2 separate regions of the Homo sapiens genome follow, and region 1 is linked to region 2. A link means that fine-mapping ties the variant in region 2 to the expression of a gene that starts in the linked region. Tissue or cell type: esophagus muscle. Region 2 holds a variant in brackets; the other region holds the start of a gene. All regions are shown on one strand. Distances are between the middles of the regions.

The links. PIP is the estimated chance that this variant, and not a neighbour inherited with it, causes the effect.
Region 1: GRIN2C starts here. The variant in region 2 is fine-mapped to the expression of GRIN2C in esophagus muscle (GTEx, PIP above 0.99). The same link has a PIP of 0.9 or more in gastroesophageal junction, prostate, sigmoid colon, tibial nerve and transverse colon.

The regions. Positions count from the first base shown.
Region 1 is chr17:74,855,705-74,863,709 of GRCh38, reverse strand. It overlaps GRIN2C (glutamate ionotropic receptor NMDA type subunit 2C), which reads left to right and starts at 3,825. Exons shown (of 13, transcript NM_000835.6): 1 at 3,825-3,966. FDXR (ferredoxin reductase) reads left to right here. Exons shown (of 12, transcript NM_024417.5): 11 at 464-634; 12 at 763-1,213. The coding sequence ends at 893. RefSeq lists an enhancer at 2,300-2,998.
Region 2 is chr17:74,804,531-74,812,745 of GRCh38, reverse strand. The region is part of intron 8 of SLC38A12 (solute carrier family 38 member 12); the gene reads right to left. Among named protein-coding and RNA genes, the nearest start is that of SLC38A12, 32 kb to the right of the region's middle. RefSeq lists an enhancer at 1-548. The variant G/A (reference allele first, on the strand shown) is at 3,102.

The DNA.
Region 1 (8,005 bases), 51 kb before region 2:
ATGTGACATACGTCGGGTCATTAAGTCATTCAACAAACGTTTACTGAGGTCTTTTCTGGGTTAGGCCCTGTGCTTAGTGCTGGGATTGGAGATTAATAAGGCAGCCTGTGTCCTCAGGGAGCTTCCAGTTTTACTAAGTGCCCACATACCTATCTAGTGATTAATTCACTTGGTAAACATTTACCAAGGGCCTACTGAAACTGCAGGGGAGCAAGCCTCAGCTCCTAAGCTTAGGGATCCCCTCATCTACAGGGAAACTGAGGTGTAAGGGGGTCGGCCTGGTAAAAACAGGGAGAGAAGAATCCAGGGCAGTGGACCAGCGGCCACAGCAGGCTCAGCCGACAGTCTGCCAAGAGGCGTGGGGTGTCTGTGTGCGTGCACGTGGGTGTAGATTGTGGGCACAGGATGGCCAGGGTGGTATCCAGCCACCTCCCTCCCTTCCCCTTTTGTTACCCCCTCTCAGGCCTCTACTGCAGCGGCTGGGTGAAGAGAGGACCTACAGGTGTCATAGCCACAACCATGACTGACAGCTTCCTCACCGGCCAGATGCTGCTGCAGGACCTGAAGGCTGGGTTGCTCCCCTCTGGCCCCAGGCCTGGCTACGCAGCCATCCAGGCCCTGCTCAGCAGCCGAGGTCTGGGCCCCGATGCTGAGGTCCTGGGAGGTGGGGTGGGTGGTCCTTCTCTGGGCCTCACTCTTTGGGAGGGGGCTGTTCTGGGAGGGGTGAAGGAGGAGGTGTTGACAATCTCCCCTCTGCTTCAGGGGTCCGGCCAGTCTCTTTCTCAGACTGGGAGAAGCTGGATGCCGAGGAGGTGGCCCGGGGCCAGGGCACGGGGAAGCCCAGGGAGAAGCTGGTGGATCCTCAGGAGATGCTGCGCCTCCTGGGCCACTGAGCCCAGCCCCAGCCCCGGCCCCCAGCAGGGAAGGGATGAGTGTTGGGAGGGGAAGGGCTGGGTCCGTCTGAGTGGGACTTTGCACCTCTGCTGATCCCGGCCGGCCCTGGCTTGGAGGCTTGGCTGCTCTTCCAGCGTCTCTCCTCCCTCCTGGGGAAGGTCGCCCTTGCGCGCAAGGTTTTAGCTTTCAGCAACTGAGGTAACCTTAGGGACAGGTGGAGGTGTGGGCCGATCTAACCCCTTACCCATCTCTCTACTGCTGGACTGTGGAGGGTCACCAGGTTGGGAACATGCTGGAAATAAAACAGCTGCAACCAAGAGCCATGGTTGATGGGGGACTTTTTTTGGAAGGGTTGGGGTCGGGGGTCACCTTCTGGCCGTAGCTCCCCTACCATCACCAGGTGGCGCTGCAGAGACGGCTCCCTGCTCAGGGGCCTCATTGGGGGCTTGATGGGGCTCGGCAGCCAGGCCTGGCATAGCCACCCTTCCTTTCTCCGCTCGGCCCTGCTGTGGCTGCGGGTTGCCTGTCTTCTGTCCACACTAGGGCTGCCCGGGACCGGGACCGGGACCACCCCTCCCTGGGGAGCCCTCAGTACAATCAAAACAGAAAAGAAATGGGAGCGGGGGACTGAGAAGCAGCTTGTCCCCTGTACCTCTGGGTGCCCCAGGCGAGTCTAGCCTGGGGCCCATTCTTTGGCTCTCAAAGCCTTCCTGCTTCCGTTTCCAGTCAGACACACTGGCCTTTAAAAATAGTGCCTCAGTCTCCCTAGGGCTTTGCAGTGTCCAGAGAGTGGTCACTCCCTTTTATGGCAGCCCTCAAGATGCTGCCTCGCTGTATAACCTGAGGGGTCCTCGAAATTGGCCCAAGGTCACACACTCGTGAGCTGCGGGCTCAAACCCAGGCTCCGGGCAGGCTGGTGTGTCCTCCGAGGCGCACTTGCCCCGAGTGTCAGGTCTGGGGACGCGGTTCCGGAGAGGGGAGAGGGGCCCGGGAATGCGGCGGGAGGGGCCTCGAGGGGCAGCGGGCCGGGCCGGGCCGGGGCGGAGGTGGCGGGCCCCGGCGGGGCGGGCCCTCGCGGGCGGCGGTGAGAGCTCCCGCACAGTCGGCTGCGAGCTCTGGGAGCAGGAGGCGCGGTGCGCAGCCCAGCCCGGGACGGAGCCGGGCGCCGTGCGAGCTTCGGGAGGGTCGCGGGGCGCAGGGGCGGGTCGGGGCCAGCGGACCAGGCCGCGCCACCCGCCCCCGCCCCCGCCCCGCCGCGCCCGGGCTCCGGCGCCCGCGGAGCTGAGACTGAGCGCGCCAGCCCTCCGGGGCCGAGGCTCTGGGACAGACACCGCGAGGGAGGCGGCCGGCGCGGGCTCTCGTCGCGGGCGCAGCGCCCCTTCCCCTCGGTAAGTGGCGAGCGGCGGGCGAGGGGCACCAACTTCGCCGCCAACTTGGGGCTGGGTTCCCGCGGCGCGCGAGCAAGGACGGCGGAGACAGAGGCGGGACACCCGGGGGGTTGGACCCACGCAGGACTCTCGGGGCTCAAGGAGGGGGCGGCTGGAGGACCCGGACCCTCAAGAACCTGGCCTTGGGTTTTGACCCGGGCGGCCGGAGAGAAGGCGAAGAAGAGGCCGAGCAGACAGGCGCGCGGCGGACGCGAGAGAAGGACGCGGGCGAAGCGTCCAAGACGTTCGTCCCCAGGGTCGCCGAGCCCTCCTCCTCCTTCGCTTGGCGCGGCAGCACCGCGGGACCAGGGGAGTCTGGGCTGCCGCGGACCCAAACTGTTGCTGCTGGAAGCCGCCGGGGCGGAGAGCGGGGAACAGGGCCGGGAGTGGGGGCCGGGGCTGGGATCCACCAGAGCGAGGGGTTGGAAAGGAGTCGAGAAGGTGAAAGGGGGCTGTGCGGCTCCCCAGCCCAGTGCCCCAGTTTCCCTAGGTCTGCTGGGCACCTGCTGCGCACTCGCCTCGGCGCCCAGACCCCTTCCCCCGCCGCGAGTCCCGCTTCTTCCCCTTCCAGCTCTGCCCCATCTCCTTTGCCCCAGCCTAGCTCTCTCCTTCCTGCGACCTGGGAGAATCGGAGTGGGCTTCCAGAGTAGTGGCATCTTGCAGATGCTGGCCCGTGCCCGGCTCCCGGGCTTCCAGAGCGCAAAGGGAAGGGTAGGCAGAGAGGGCACTGGGCGAGCAAGACCTGGCGCTGGGCCCTGGCTGCGCACCAGCCGCCTGCGCCGGTCTCTGGGGGCTTCGCCCAGGATCCCCGACGGCGGGGAGGGGAAGCCCCGAGTCTCCTGTTTCCTGCCTACGCGGGCAGGGCGGGGACACGCGGAGCAAAGGCACCCGGCAACCTGAACCCCCAGGTGCGTCCCGCGACCCTGCAAGGAGCTGCTGGGTGAGCAAGACGGGAATTCCCGCCAGGCCCTGATGCCCACCCCATTCGTCCACTCGGTTTCCCAGCCCTGGTCGTCCAAGGGGACTTCTGGCTCGGTCCCCCAGCCCTCGGATGGTGGCGTTATCTTAGTTCAGTCCCTGACCCCGGGCCACAGGAAAATCGAGGAAAGACACTTATTTGGGGAGGGTACCATTCCGCTGGCTGTATTTCAGAGCCCGTCCAGGTCTTGGCGGTGCTAGTGACTTTGAGCCTGTTTCTAAACTCCCGAAGAATAAGAGCGTGCCAGGGGCAGGTAGGCAGGTCCGGGACACCTGGGTTCGCCCAGGGCCCCCGGGCGGGCCTGGGATGGTACTGGGGCCGCCTGCCAGGCTGGCTTGGTCCCCCCACTGCGGGACTCGGGGTCACGACCCAGCTTGGGGGAGTGGGGGTGGGGGCCCCGGAGCCGCGGACGCCGGCGGGGGGCAGCGTGGGGCGGGGGGCGCCGGGTGCGTGGTGCTCAGCTTGGCCGCCAGGAGGCGTGGCGCGGGTCCCCGCCCGGAGCCGCCGCCGCCGCCGCCGCCGCCGCATCGCGAGTGTCCTTGAGCCGCGGGTGACGGTGGCTCTCGCTGCTCGCGCCCCCTCCTCCCGCGGGGGGAGCCTGATGCCACGTTCCCTATGAATTATTTATCGCCGGCCTAAAAATACCCCGAACTTCACAGCCCGAGTGTAAGAGATTGCTGCGGAGGGGAGGGGGCGGGGCGTCCCGGTGGCCAGGGGGAGTCCGGGCGGGGTCCGCGGAGACGGGGGCCGTAGCCTTGGAGGAGCAAGAACTCCGTGCCCCCAGCAGTGGGGCAAGCTAGAACGGCGGTCCTCTCCCCTGGCGCCTGGGTTCGGGTTTTGGCTGGGCAAAAGGGAGGGAGGGAAACCCGACGGCAAAGGAGGGGCGGCTCACCGGAAGGGCAGGGGGTCCGGGGGTTCTGCTGGTGGGTGGGGAGGACTCCTGCGACAGAGTTTCCTAGCCTGGGAGAGGGAGAGCCATCGGTATCTCAGATGTGAGCGGGTATGAGTGCGGGAGTGTGCATGTGTGTGCAGGTCCGTGCCAGGGGGTCTGGCTGAGCTGTGAGGACCCGGGAAGGAGAAGGCCCCCAGCCTGGGAAGGTGCTCAGACCCTTCTAGATGCTGCTGTGTCCTGCAGGACTGACCACTGCCATCCTCTCTGGGGCTCTTTGGGGATCTCTGTGTTTGTCAAACATTAGTTTAAGGGCTGTTTGTGGAAGGGGTGAGACCCTGAGTGGGTGGGTGGGCAGAGGTCTCTGAGACAATGTGTCTGCCCTCAAGGAGCCCGCAGTCCAGTGTGGGGCAGGGTGTTAATGAGTGCACACACACCTGCCGCAGGGCAGAATGGAGGGGTGGAGGGGACCACTACACAGAGCTCCCCACCCAGGAGGGGAAGCCAGGGCAGGGGGAAGAAGGGCAGGTGCCCCAGCCTGGCCGCAGTCCCTGCGCCTAGAGCCTGAGGCATCAAGGCAGGTGCCTGTGGGAGAGGGATTTCAGCTGGGCCCTGAAGGAGAGTAGACTTCTGTTGGGATGAGGACATTCCAGCCTGGGGGATGCTGGAACGAGGCCTGGAGATGAGGGCAGAATGGGGCTGTTTGGCCAGCAGACTGGCAGAGCTGTGGGTTCCAGGGATGGGAGGACGGTTGGTTGCGGTCAGGGTGCAGAGGGCTCTGTCTATGGGACTAAGCTGTCTGGACTTCATTTGTGGGCACCAGGGTGTAGCTGTCCTGTGTGAGGAGGGAGCAGTGGCTGGAGGAAGGCTTCAGCAGTGCAGTGGGGCTGGCGGGGGTGGGTAGGTGGGAGGTGGGGAGGGGGAGGCAAGGGAGGAGATTGTGGCGGGGGAAAGTGGAGTTTGTCCCTCCTACCTCTGTAGGGTGGCTGGGTTAGACGGGGTGATGAGACAGAATTCGGAAGCTCCTTGAGTCTGCCCCTTGCTATTTGGAGCCCAGGGACTTACCTAGTTTTGGCCCCTGGCTCTGGAGGTATTCTGGGATCCCTCCCCCATTTTAGGCCCCTTGATTAGAGGTACAACCTGCCTCAACTCCCCCACCCCCCGACCCCCAACCCCCAACCCAGCAGGACACCTTCCCTTTGGAGAGAGTCTCTGGTGTCCCCAGCCCATGAGGATGTCTTCCTATTGGAGAGAGTGGGAATGAGAACATTTTCAGCTATTACCAGACCCTTATTCCTTCATGTGAATGAGCTCTAGGTCCTTGGCTAAGAAAAGGTCTTGACTGGGGAGGGTGGAAGCTTGAGGGGAGTAGGGAGTTGGAAAGAGAAATACATTTAGAAAAAGGAGGTTGGAGATGCTAATGGCAGACTGCTTATTCTGCCCCTTTGCAGTTGAGGGAGAGCCTGGGCCCTTCATCCAGGGTCACACTGTCCAAAGAAATAAAATGGGAGCCACAAGTACAATTTAAAATTTTCTAGTAACCACATTAAAACAAATAGAAACAGGTGACGTTAATTTTAATAGTATATTTTCTTTGACTAAACATACCCCAAATGTTATTATTTCAACATGTAATCAAGATACAAGTGTTTACGAGATTTTTTACATTCTTTTTCCCTGTTGTCTTCAATGTGCAGTGTGGCATGAAATTTTACACTGATAGCAAACTCCGTTTGGGTGAGAGATGTTTCTGGTACCCAATAGTCGTGTATGACTGGCGGCTCCTATACTGGGCAGCACAGATCTAGAGCTCATTACTGGGAGGCAGGGGTAGTAGGAGGTTTGGGGCTCCCCAGAGGGCAAGGAACCTCTAGGACCTGGAGGTGTGGGCAGAGGTGAGCAGACAGAGGCCGTGCAAGGGGAGCGACAAGCATGTCAGTGTCCTTTGTGGTTGAGATCTGACATCCCTGATTGGTGGTGGCAGCTGAGGCATGGCATGGCATGGCTAGGATCGATCCCTTGCCAGACTCAAACATGTCTCTGGGCTGTCAGTTCTGTCACTTCTGTCACTTCTGTGTCACTGTACTAGGGAACCGTACACATGGGAAGATTTCAAGGGCGCCACCATGAGAGCAATATTCCCTTCCTTGCCAAAACTCTTGTCTTCTTGGCCTGAAATTCTACCACCTGGCACTTTAGCTTAAGGCTCTGATTGTGGTTAAACTACATCTCTCTTGGGAATGAGAACCCTTTCAGCTATGATCAGTCCCTCATACCTTCCTGTGAATGAGCTCTAGATGCTTAGCTAAGAGAAGATCTTGACGGGGAGGCTGGGGAGTTTGAGGGAAGTAGGGAGAGAAGGTTGGAAAGAGAAATATATTTAGAAAAAAGGAGGTTGGAGGTGCTAACAGCAGCATGCTCATTCTGCAGATTTGACTCTAAGTTCCTGGAGGGCAGGGACCATGTCTCACCCATAGGGACATTCCACCATCCAGCGCCTGCTGCAGGGAAGGGGCTCAGCACACACGGGCCAATTGATGTTTCTACACTAAAGTTGGTTTAGTGGGTTCCCTGGAGGGATCCTTTCAGTGCCACCCTGGGGAGAAGAGGAACTTTCCTGAATGTTCCTGGTAGCCTCTTGCACTTCCCCGCTCTCTGGATTCCTTAGAGAGAACTAGAGATACAAGAAGGCCCATATGTCTGTAAGACATTAGGCTTTGGATTAAAAAAAAAGAGAGAGATAGCTGGGTGTGGTGGCTGACGCCTGTAATCCCAGCACTTTGGGAGGCCGAGGTGGGCAGATCATGAGGTCAGGAGATCGAGACCATCCTGGCTAACACGGTGAAACCCTATCTGTACTAAAAAATACAAAAAATTAGCCGGGCATGGTGGTGGGCGCCTGTAGTCCCAGCTACTTGGGAGGCCGAGGCAGGAGGATGGCATGAACCCGGGAGGTGGAGCTTGCAGTGAGCCGAGATCGCACCACTGCACTCCAGTCTGGGTGACAGAGCAAGACTCTGTCTCAAAAAAAAAAAAAAAGAGAGAGAGAGAAATTTGGTGGCAGGCAAAAGGAAGGCCCTGTGAGAAAGCTGGAGCCTGCCCAGCAGTTGTCTCGGGCCCCATCCCTGAAGGGCATCTGTCTTTCGGAGGCGTGGTTTCTGGCAACTGCTTGATTTTCGTGAGCATTTCTGTAGCAGAGATGTGCAGATCCTGGGGGAGGCGGGAGGGCTGGAGTGGCAGGCTCACCCTGTCCACCCTTTAGCTCTTCCCTGCTCAGAAGTTTTGCTGGGGATGTGATGAAGATGGGAGAGATGGCAGTGCCATGGCCGATGGCCAGCTGGGAGGGAGAGTGACATCCGTGGGCACCACTCCACTCAGGCTTTGTGTTACCCTCACTGCTGTGGCTCTTGGTCCCAATCCAAAATAATGACATTTAGCAAGGATACGTGTCAGGCCCCTGGGTTGGGTTCAAAAGATCCTGCACGCCAGTGATGGCCCGAGAGGCCAGCTCACCAGCTCATGTGTAACAAGACCAAACCCCAGCTCACCAGCTTGGGTTTTCCGGTACCCCTGAGCTCTGAACAAGTCAGTGCTGTTGCACCCTGCTGCGGAAGAGCTGCTACTAGCTGAGGCCACAGAAGGAAGGGCTGTAGTGACGTCCAGTGCCCAGGAGGAGGGGGCTCTGTGCCAGGCAGAACCATGCAGAGGAGGGCCCTTGGGGCTGGCCCCATGGCAAGCAGGGCACACTGACCAGTAGCACAGGCCCTGGTGAGAGACAGATGGAAGATCCGGTTTAGACTATGAGGAGGACTGGCC
Region 2 (8,215 bases):
CTACCTTAAACGCACAGAGACCTGTGGGAGCTGACCACGGAGCACTCGGGCTTGGAGTGAGGAGGGCGCAGGGGGGCTCATCTGGGTGGAGGCGGAGCGCACAAATCGCACAGCCGAGCTCCCTGATCCTGGAGGTTATTTCAAGCGATAAAAGAAAGGATCCCCCAGACTCCAGGGCTGCTCTTGGTGGGCACAAGGGGTTAAGAGTTAATTGGGGTTAATGGCAACTCAGCATGAGCCCGTCCCTAAATGGGAAGTGAACTTTCAACACGTCCTTGAAGTGTAGTGAAGAAACGTTCAAGGATTCTATTTTTATTTCTCAAGTGGCTGTGAACGTTTTGGTTTGGAAGTTTTTATTTTCTCAACTTGAATTACAGTATCTGGGGATTCACCCACACGAAGGTGAGTTCTGAGGCAGTGTGGGTCAGCTGAAGGACCACAGGCTTCAGGGTCACGTGGCTAGGGCAGGATTTGCATCCTGATGTCCCTTCTAACTGCGAGAGCTTTCAAGTTCCTGAACCCCTCAAAGCATGCTGCGTGTGCACAGAAGACACTCAACAGACATGAGCGTGGCTTCCTGACCCCCTGTGTCAGCACACACCAAGTCATCACTCCTGTCCAAACATCTCGGTGGGGGAACGCAGCACTCCTGAAGCCAAGCAAGGAGCTCCAACCAAAGAATGTTAAGTCAATGCTATTTTTTTTTTTTTGAGGCACTGTCACCCAGGCTGGAGTGCAGTGGTGCGATCATAGCTCACTGCAGCCCCGAACTCCTAGGCTCAAGCGATCTGCCCGCCTAAGCCTCCTGAGTAGCTACGACTACAAATGCATGCCACCACATTCTGCTAATTAATTATTATTATTATTATTTTTTTTGCAGAGATGGGGGTCTCACTATATTGTCCAGGCTGGTCTCAAACTCCTGGCCTCAAGTGATCCTCCTGCCTTGGCCTCCCAAAGTGCTAGGATTACAGGCGTGAGCCACCATGCCTAGCCCCAATACTATTCTTTTCTTTTTTCTTTTTTTGAGATAGTCTCACTCTGCTGCCCAGGCTAAAGTGCAGTGGTGTGATCTTGGCTCGCGGCAACCTCCACCTCCCAGGCTCAAGTGATTGTCCTGCCTCAGCCTCCCAGGTAGCTGGGGCTACAGGCATATGCCACCACGCTTTGCTAATTTTTGTATTTTTAGTAGAGATGAGATTTCACCATGTTGGCCAGGCTGGTCATGAACTCCTGACCTCAAGTGATCTGCCTGCCTTGGCCTCCCAAAATGCTGGAATTACAGGCCTGAGCCACCATGCCTGGCCAGCCTGGCCCCCAGTACTATTCTACTATTCTTATTTGACTTCCATGAGGTCCACCCAAGTTCAACTATGGTCCAAATGCATTTTTTTGTTTGTTTTTTTTTGGTTTCTTCAGACAAGGTCTCGCTCTGTTGCCCAGGCTGGAGTGCAGTAGTGTGATCATGATTCACTGCAGCCTTGACCTCCCAGGCTCAAGCAATCCTCCCACCTCAGCCTCTTGAATAGCTGAGACTACAGGCGTGTGCCACCACGCCTCGCTAATTTTTGTATTTTTTGTAGAGACAGGGTCTTACCATATTGCCCAGGCTGGTTTCAAACTCCTGAGCTCAAGCAATCTGCCTTCCTTGGCCTCCCAAAGTGCTAGGATTCCAGGCGTAAGCCACGGTGCCCAGCCCCAGTACTATTCTTATTTGACTTCCATGACCTCCACTCAAGTTCAACTACAGTACAAATGCTCTTTAAGACAGTCCAAGTTCTTCCCGACCAAACACAAAGGATCATTCACCATGCGGAAGACGTCTGCCAGAGAAAGAGAGCAGGAGCCGTGTCAGAAACCATGCCGGCAGCCTGTGTGCACCAAATCCCATGAACCACTGTCACAGCTTATTTGCCAAAACTCTGTGATGAGAGGCACCATGCCATCTAGAGGAGGTCGTCCGAATTCTGCGGATGATTGCACTTTCACAAGGAACTATATAAGGATGAGCTTCCTAAAATGTTCTCGACAGGGCAGAGGGTGAGCAGCGCCCCTCCTGAAGACCAGCCCAGGAATGGGCTGACCCAGAGACTGGGAGGGGATGGGATTTGTGCCAGGACAGGCTGTCGGGTTCTAGACACCAACGCAAGCATGACAGACAGTGCCAATCTTGCCCCCACCAATTCTCAAATACTGTGTACCTGGTGCAGAGTGAGAGATGAGGACAGGCGGAGGCTGGCTGCCTCCCTCAGTGCACGTCCCTCTCTGCAGCAGTGATTAGTGTTAGCCCAACACCTGCCATAACGCACTTTTTGAACAAGTTAGCATGGCCCTTTGTCCTTGGCTCCCCCTGATCTTCCCAAACCCCTCAACTAGAAGGTCCTTGGGAGATGCCTACTGAATAGACTCCAAGTTTGAAAGATTCACATGATGACCGAAGACAGAACTGACGGTTGATGCCTAGATGACTCTAAAGAAGTGGGTGCCCCCTGTGCATTAGAGGCCAGCTCTATGCACCTTGTCACTAGGTCACCATTATCTTCAGTAAAAAACCATGGCTGCTCACGCCAAGCTGGCAGCCTCGTTCTGAATGCGTGAGTGGAGAGACGGAAGATCTACAGCTCTTCTCAAAGACGGGAGGACACTGAGCCTCCAGGCAGAGGCAATCATGAGCCAAAAGTGAAGGTCCCAGCAGCGTGTTCCAAAGCGGCCACCAAGCTAGAAAGCAGAGGAAAGAAACCAAATCCTCGCAGCAGGAGCTCAGCAACCAGGGGCTGGTCGGGAGGAAAGACCCGTCCCTTCGCCCAGCTAGCGGAGATAAAGATGAACTCTGGGCACATTCTCGGTACAGGTACAGACTGGCCAACAGTGGGGCACCTGCGCTACCTCTGCTCAGATACTTGTGAAAATGTTATTCGACTCTGATGCTGGGGAACCTGGAAGAATGATTTCAGGGAGAAAGAAACCAGGGGAAAGGTGGATGGATGCTCTCTTTTATGCAACGTTGCCCCCTTGGACCTGGGGGGCCAGGGCTCTCAAGCAGCCCTGGTCCACCGCCTGCCTGAGCTATTGCAGGTCCAGAACACCACCTCCCAGGATGC[G/A]ATGTTAGCCTGTGGCTGGGAAAGAGGCGGCATGAAGGGGCTGCGTGAGAGCTTCCCGCACAGAACCGAAGCAGCACCCGCTCCAGGAGTCTGGCCATCCCATGGCAGCTGTGACGCAGGCTGCATGGGACGAGAGCTGCCTGGACTCCCCTGTGCGGGCTCCGAGAAAGACAGGGAGAGCTGGACAGCACGGGAGGGACAGTCCAGAGCCACTGTGGCACCGCTCACGACTCCTGAGGAGCCTGGGGGAGGCTGCTCTGAGGCTCAGCCCTGTCAGTGAGGAGACAACCAGAGGCGTCTGGAAGGCAGTTCTTGGGTTTGCTGTTACTCCCCAAACACTGGCTGAAGGACCGTCTTTGAATGTTTGACAGCCGAAAACCTCCCCAGGTCCCTTCCTCAAACCTCTGCTTCCCCCTTTTCAAGGCAAGTGGAAACAGAGCCAAGAAAAACCCATATACTTCCTTTTCTGAACCACCTCCTCTGAATACCCCGTACCCCTACGTAAATGACATGCTCAATTTCTTAGTTAGGGACCTGAGGTTTGTAACCTATCTTTACCGGAGCTCTGGGAGGCAACAAAATGAGCATCTTCTCCCTAACCCCTTGATGGTGAAAAAGGAACGTCAGAAACTTCCTATCAGGCAGAGTGCGGCTCATAGGAGCCCGTGCGTGGGAGGCATGTGGGGGAAGGTGCCACCTGGGAGGGAACCTAATGCCATGACCCACTGGGGGCTCCTGCAGCACCGGATGCGCAGCCTGGCTTTGACCTGCCAGAAAACTGTCCATGCACTGTGGCCGCTGCAGGAGGGAGCCTGTGTCTGCCCAGAACACACGCTGTGGCCCCCAGGCAGCAAACTCCACCCACCTTTGGAACCAGGATGAGTCCACACACCTGGTAATACCCCGCCTGTTGTCTCCAAGCTTCTAGCTGGGAGCTGGTATTAAGCTCACACTGAGGGGATGCTGGTGGCAAGAGCTCAGCCCCTGAACATGACACCCTTCTCTACCTGGAGCCCTTCCCAAGCTCTCCAAGCTTCCCGAGACACCTGAGACTGATGTCTGTCATTCCAGAGAAGGCTCTGCCCCGGGGCAGGGAAGACGAGGCTCAGAACCAGCAAGTGGACTGGCACTGCCAGGCACTACCAGAGTGCCCAGGCAGGATGGCATCTTCCAAGGAGAGCTCCTCCCTGCAGACACCTGCACCTTGGTGACTGTCTCCACTTGGTAGGAAACAGGTTGAGAGGGATTCATTTGTCCCAAACCTCACACTGCTTAGATGTGGCAGGGATTCGAAACAGGTCATCTTCAGTCAAAGCCCAGTCCCTCTTTAGAGCACCCAGTTCCTCTTTAGAGCACTCAACTGTCTCCTTTGCTTACATCCTGATGGAAGGGCTGTCTCCTCTGCCATCCACTCTGTGGCCCCCTCAAGGCTGGCGCCTTCAGGGCAGGACTGGGCTGGCCCAGTGGCCTTGGCCTGGCCTCTCATTGGAGGACAAGCTGCCTGCCTGTGTGGGCTCTTTCTCGGCTGAAAAGCCAGATGGTACCCGATGGTGGGCAGAGTTCCAAGTATTTGATGCCAGAGCTGCAACCCTTGTGGTTTAGGGGGAAGGGGAAGATAAATATTGTGGAAAACCCACACAGTCATTTGCCTAATGATTATGAGCCATCAGGGTTTATAGAGGACAGCCCGGCTCTTCACAAGCCTGACGGAGGACCACGGAATCTAGCACCTGCACATCCAGGTGAAAAGACCATGGGTTCTGACCTTGACCTAGGAGAGCTTTACGGATGTTACGTGAGGAGCTGGGGTGGGGCAGAGGGCATGTGTGCGCAAAGCTGTGGGACGTGAGGAACAGACCTGTCTGTGGAGCTGGCGCCTACTCTAATCCGTCACTGTCCGAATTTCAGATGCAAATTGGTGGTGCTGGAGAAAGAGACGGGTGACGAGCTGTCTGTGACTTCACGGCAGTGGACGGATTCCAGCTGCTCCCTTCTACTTCTGCCCCCCAAAGACAGAAGTGCTCTGGCACTTGCGGAGGGGAAGCTTGTCCTGGCAGCGAGGACCAGAGGATGACCCGCCCACTGGGAAAGGAGGGGCTGGCTGTGCATGGAGTCTGTCTTGCAGAAGCAGCAGCCACTAGCTGTGGTGGGCTCTGGCCATCAGCAGGCTAAGGCCCAGGGGAGGGTTGTGTGCCAAAGCCCCGCCACAGGCCCAGCAGTGGCGTCCACCTGTAAGCAGTTTCCCTCATTGCAACCTTCAGGGAGCAACCACGCTGCGATGGGCCATGCTGGCTCTAGACGGAAAGGTGAACGAGACGCAGCCCGTGCCCTGAAGGAGCTCACAATGAGGTCAAGGAACGGAATAATCATAAAAGCCCAATTAATGCCATGGCAGGGGGTGAGGGAAGAGGGGTCCTGAGCTCAGTGTGGACTAGACGAACGCTCCTCTGACTCCAAAGCAAGGCACAGGCACGTGGTGGGCCAGGCCGTGACAGCACTCGACGTCTGGGGATGACACTGGCGGGGTGGGGTGGGGGGGTGTCTGGGGGAGAGAGAAGGCTCCAGGAGACTGGGGCAGACCATGCCACGTGAGGGAGTTTAGACTTTGCTTTCTGGAGAGGAGCTTCTGTGGGGTTTTAAGCAGGGAGATGGCAATCAGACTGCCCTAAAATCAGGGTTGACACAGAAAACCTTCATGACCCTGGGGCAGTTCTGCTGTGAGGCGCTGGGTGTGCACACCAGGGAGGGGGCTGTGACAGGCTGTCCCTCGTCATGGAGCCGTGGGGCGGGACACTCCTAACATGATGAGGTTTTTAAAAGGGACTTTGATCCTTTGAACTAGGAGTATAGACAGGGGTAGGGGGAGATCAGGGAATTTCATTCCCATCCTATCGGACAGAGGAGGGAAAAGGCCATCCTAGGCCCTCCTGGGGAACCTGATGGGAGACAGAGCGAGGAATGCCCACTTTCTAGGGCAGGCTCTAGAGAAGCCTTTCTTCCCCACGGCAGGAAGAAAATAGGGACTGTGAGGAAAGGCAGGGCTCTTATAGAGGGTTTGGCAGCTCTGAAGAGCATGAAAACCTCTTTTCCCGGCTCTCCTCGGCCGAGTTAACAGATCCAAGGACCAAAACTCCTCTGGGCACTACAGGCGTGGCTTACTGGCTCTCATGTTTTAGTTTTTGAGATCTCTCTACAAAAACAGCTCTTTTAGTATTTATGCTGGATGTCAAGGAGGAGGGAGGGGATGGGTGCACGGCATTATTCTCCCCGACGGCTGTGCCTGGAGAGGCTGGGTCTGGGTTAGCCGGGGTCACAGTATACCACTATCTTATACCAGTGAGAAGGCCGGGGCATGTCTTGCTTGGCCACATAACTGCTGGGGGCTGGGCTACCACTGTTGGGGCCAGGCTAGGGGTCAACTTGATCCTCACAGGTCCTAAGAACAAGAGAGCGTGAGAGGAACAGGTGGGCTGTGTCGCAAGTGACAGAGGATGGGGGACCCTCTGAGCCATCAATCTAGCCCCTCAGCTCCCTTGGGAAAAAACACCCACACCTCCAACCACCTGATTCTGCCAGGAATTGAACTGCTCAGAACATTCATTGGTGGTGATGTGTGTGCCCATGGGCCTCGGAACCCATGAGGCCGCTTGCGTCTCCAGTAACCAGCTGGCATCTGATGGCTTTTGGTGCCCAGAGTCTAGCTGTCAATCCCCCGCCCTGCCCTGGGAACAGGAGGAGGCAGTGCCATCGCCCTCTGTTGCCCGGAGCTTGTGCGTCACTCAAGGAGAGGTGCCAGGCGATCACTTGAGATGCTCTCGGCATCTTCCCTTCCTCGGTCCATGCTCTCGGCGCAGGAAGAGCAATGGCAGTGGGAACGCTCCAGCAGGAGCTGGAGGAAGCAAGGGAGGGAAGTCAGGTGCCCAGAACACGGGTGCCCTGCAGAGAGGGCTGCACAGGCCCAGCTGGCTCCACCCCTTTTCTGCTGACGTCTGGCCTTGAAATAGACCGGGAACTGAGTAACCTTGGAGGCGGGACGGAGGGGAGATGGCATATCAAGCTGGCTGATTAATGAGCTCTCTTGAAGCGGGTTTGAGAAGTGACATCAGCAAGCCCCCAGCTTCCTCCCTAGTCGGGGGTCAGAGTGAGATGCCCTCTCCGGGGAGCTGGCACGCTGCGGGGTCTAGAGCCCCCAACCAGCAGCTTCAGAGGAAGCTACAGGGGAAGCCTAGAGCACCACCCGCTAGGGACATGGGAGGTACCCGTCAGCCGCAAGTGACAAAGCAGCCTCCAGCCAGTGGGCACGCACAGCCCCTCTTCTCTCTGGCAGTGCCTTAGGTGTGGACTCCAGGATGTGGCAGCACCTGTAGGTTGCCCAGCCCCTCTCCTTTCCCTGCAAAAGGCAGGCACGGGAAGCCCTTGACAGCTGCCTCCACCATGGTGCTGTGGGAAGCAGTTCCTGAAGGAAGACCAGAGTAGGCCTCTCCCCGGGAGACCTTTTACTACCTCGACAGATCTGCGCCAGCAGGATTTCTCAAAGGGAAAAGCACACAGAATTCTCCTCAGAACTGGTTGAAAATGCGGATTCCTGGGCCCTGTGGCCTTCGAATATACTGCATCAGGCCTGGCGCAGGACCCAAGCATCTACATTTTTATTAAGAGCCCGAAGGCACTCTTGTGCCAGTGGTCAGGCAACCAGATCTTGAGAAACACTTTCCTGATCCAGGGGAAAGGGACCAGCTGGGAAGTGTTCCCAGAGACTGTTCACCTGCCTCTCAGGTGAAGCACAGCCTCCCTGCAGTAGTGTGGGAGAAGGCGCCAGAACTGGACATTACAGACCGCAGGGGCCTCCCGGCCTCAGCCAGTGCCCAACACCCAATACCAGTCCCTGCATTCTCTTCCCATCAAGGTGTTCAGAAAATGTCTCAATCCATGGTTGAAGGAAGTTCTTGCCATTGCCAAACTACACATGCCCTGCGGTGGCTCAAGACCCTTCTAGAGTCACACTCACATGGGGTATCTGCTGCCACACCCCCAGTGCCTCCTTTTGTGCCTGAGGCTTATGAAAATGTTCCTTGGTCCACTGTCAGCGAATCCACAAGACATCCGGGCTTATG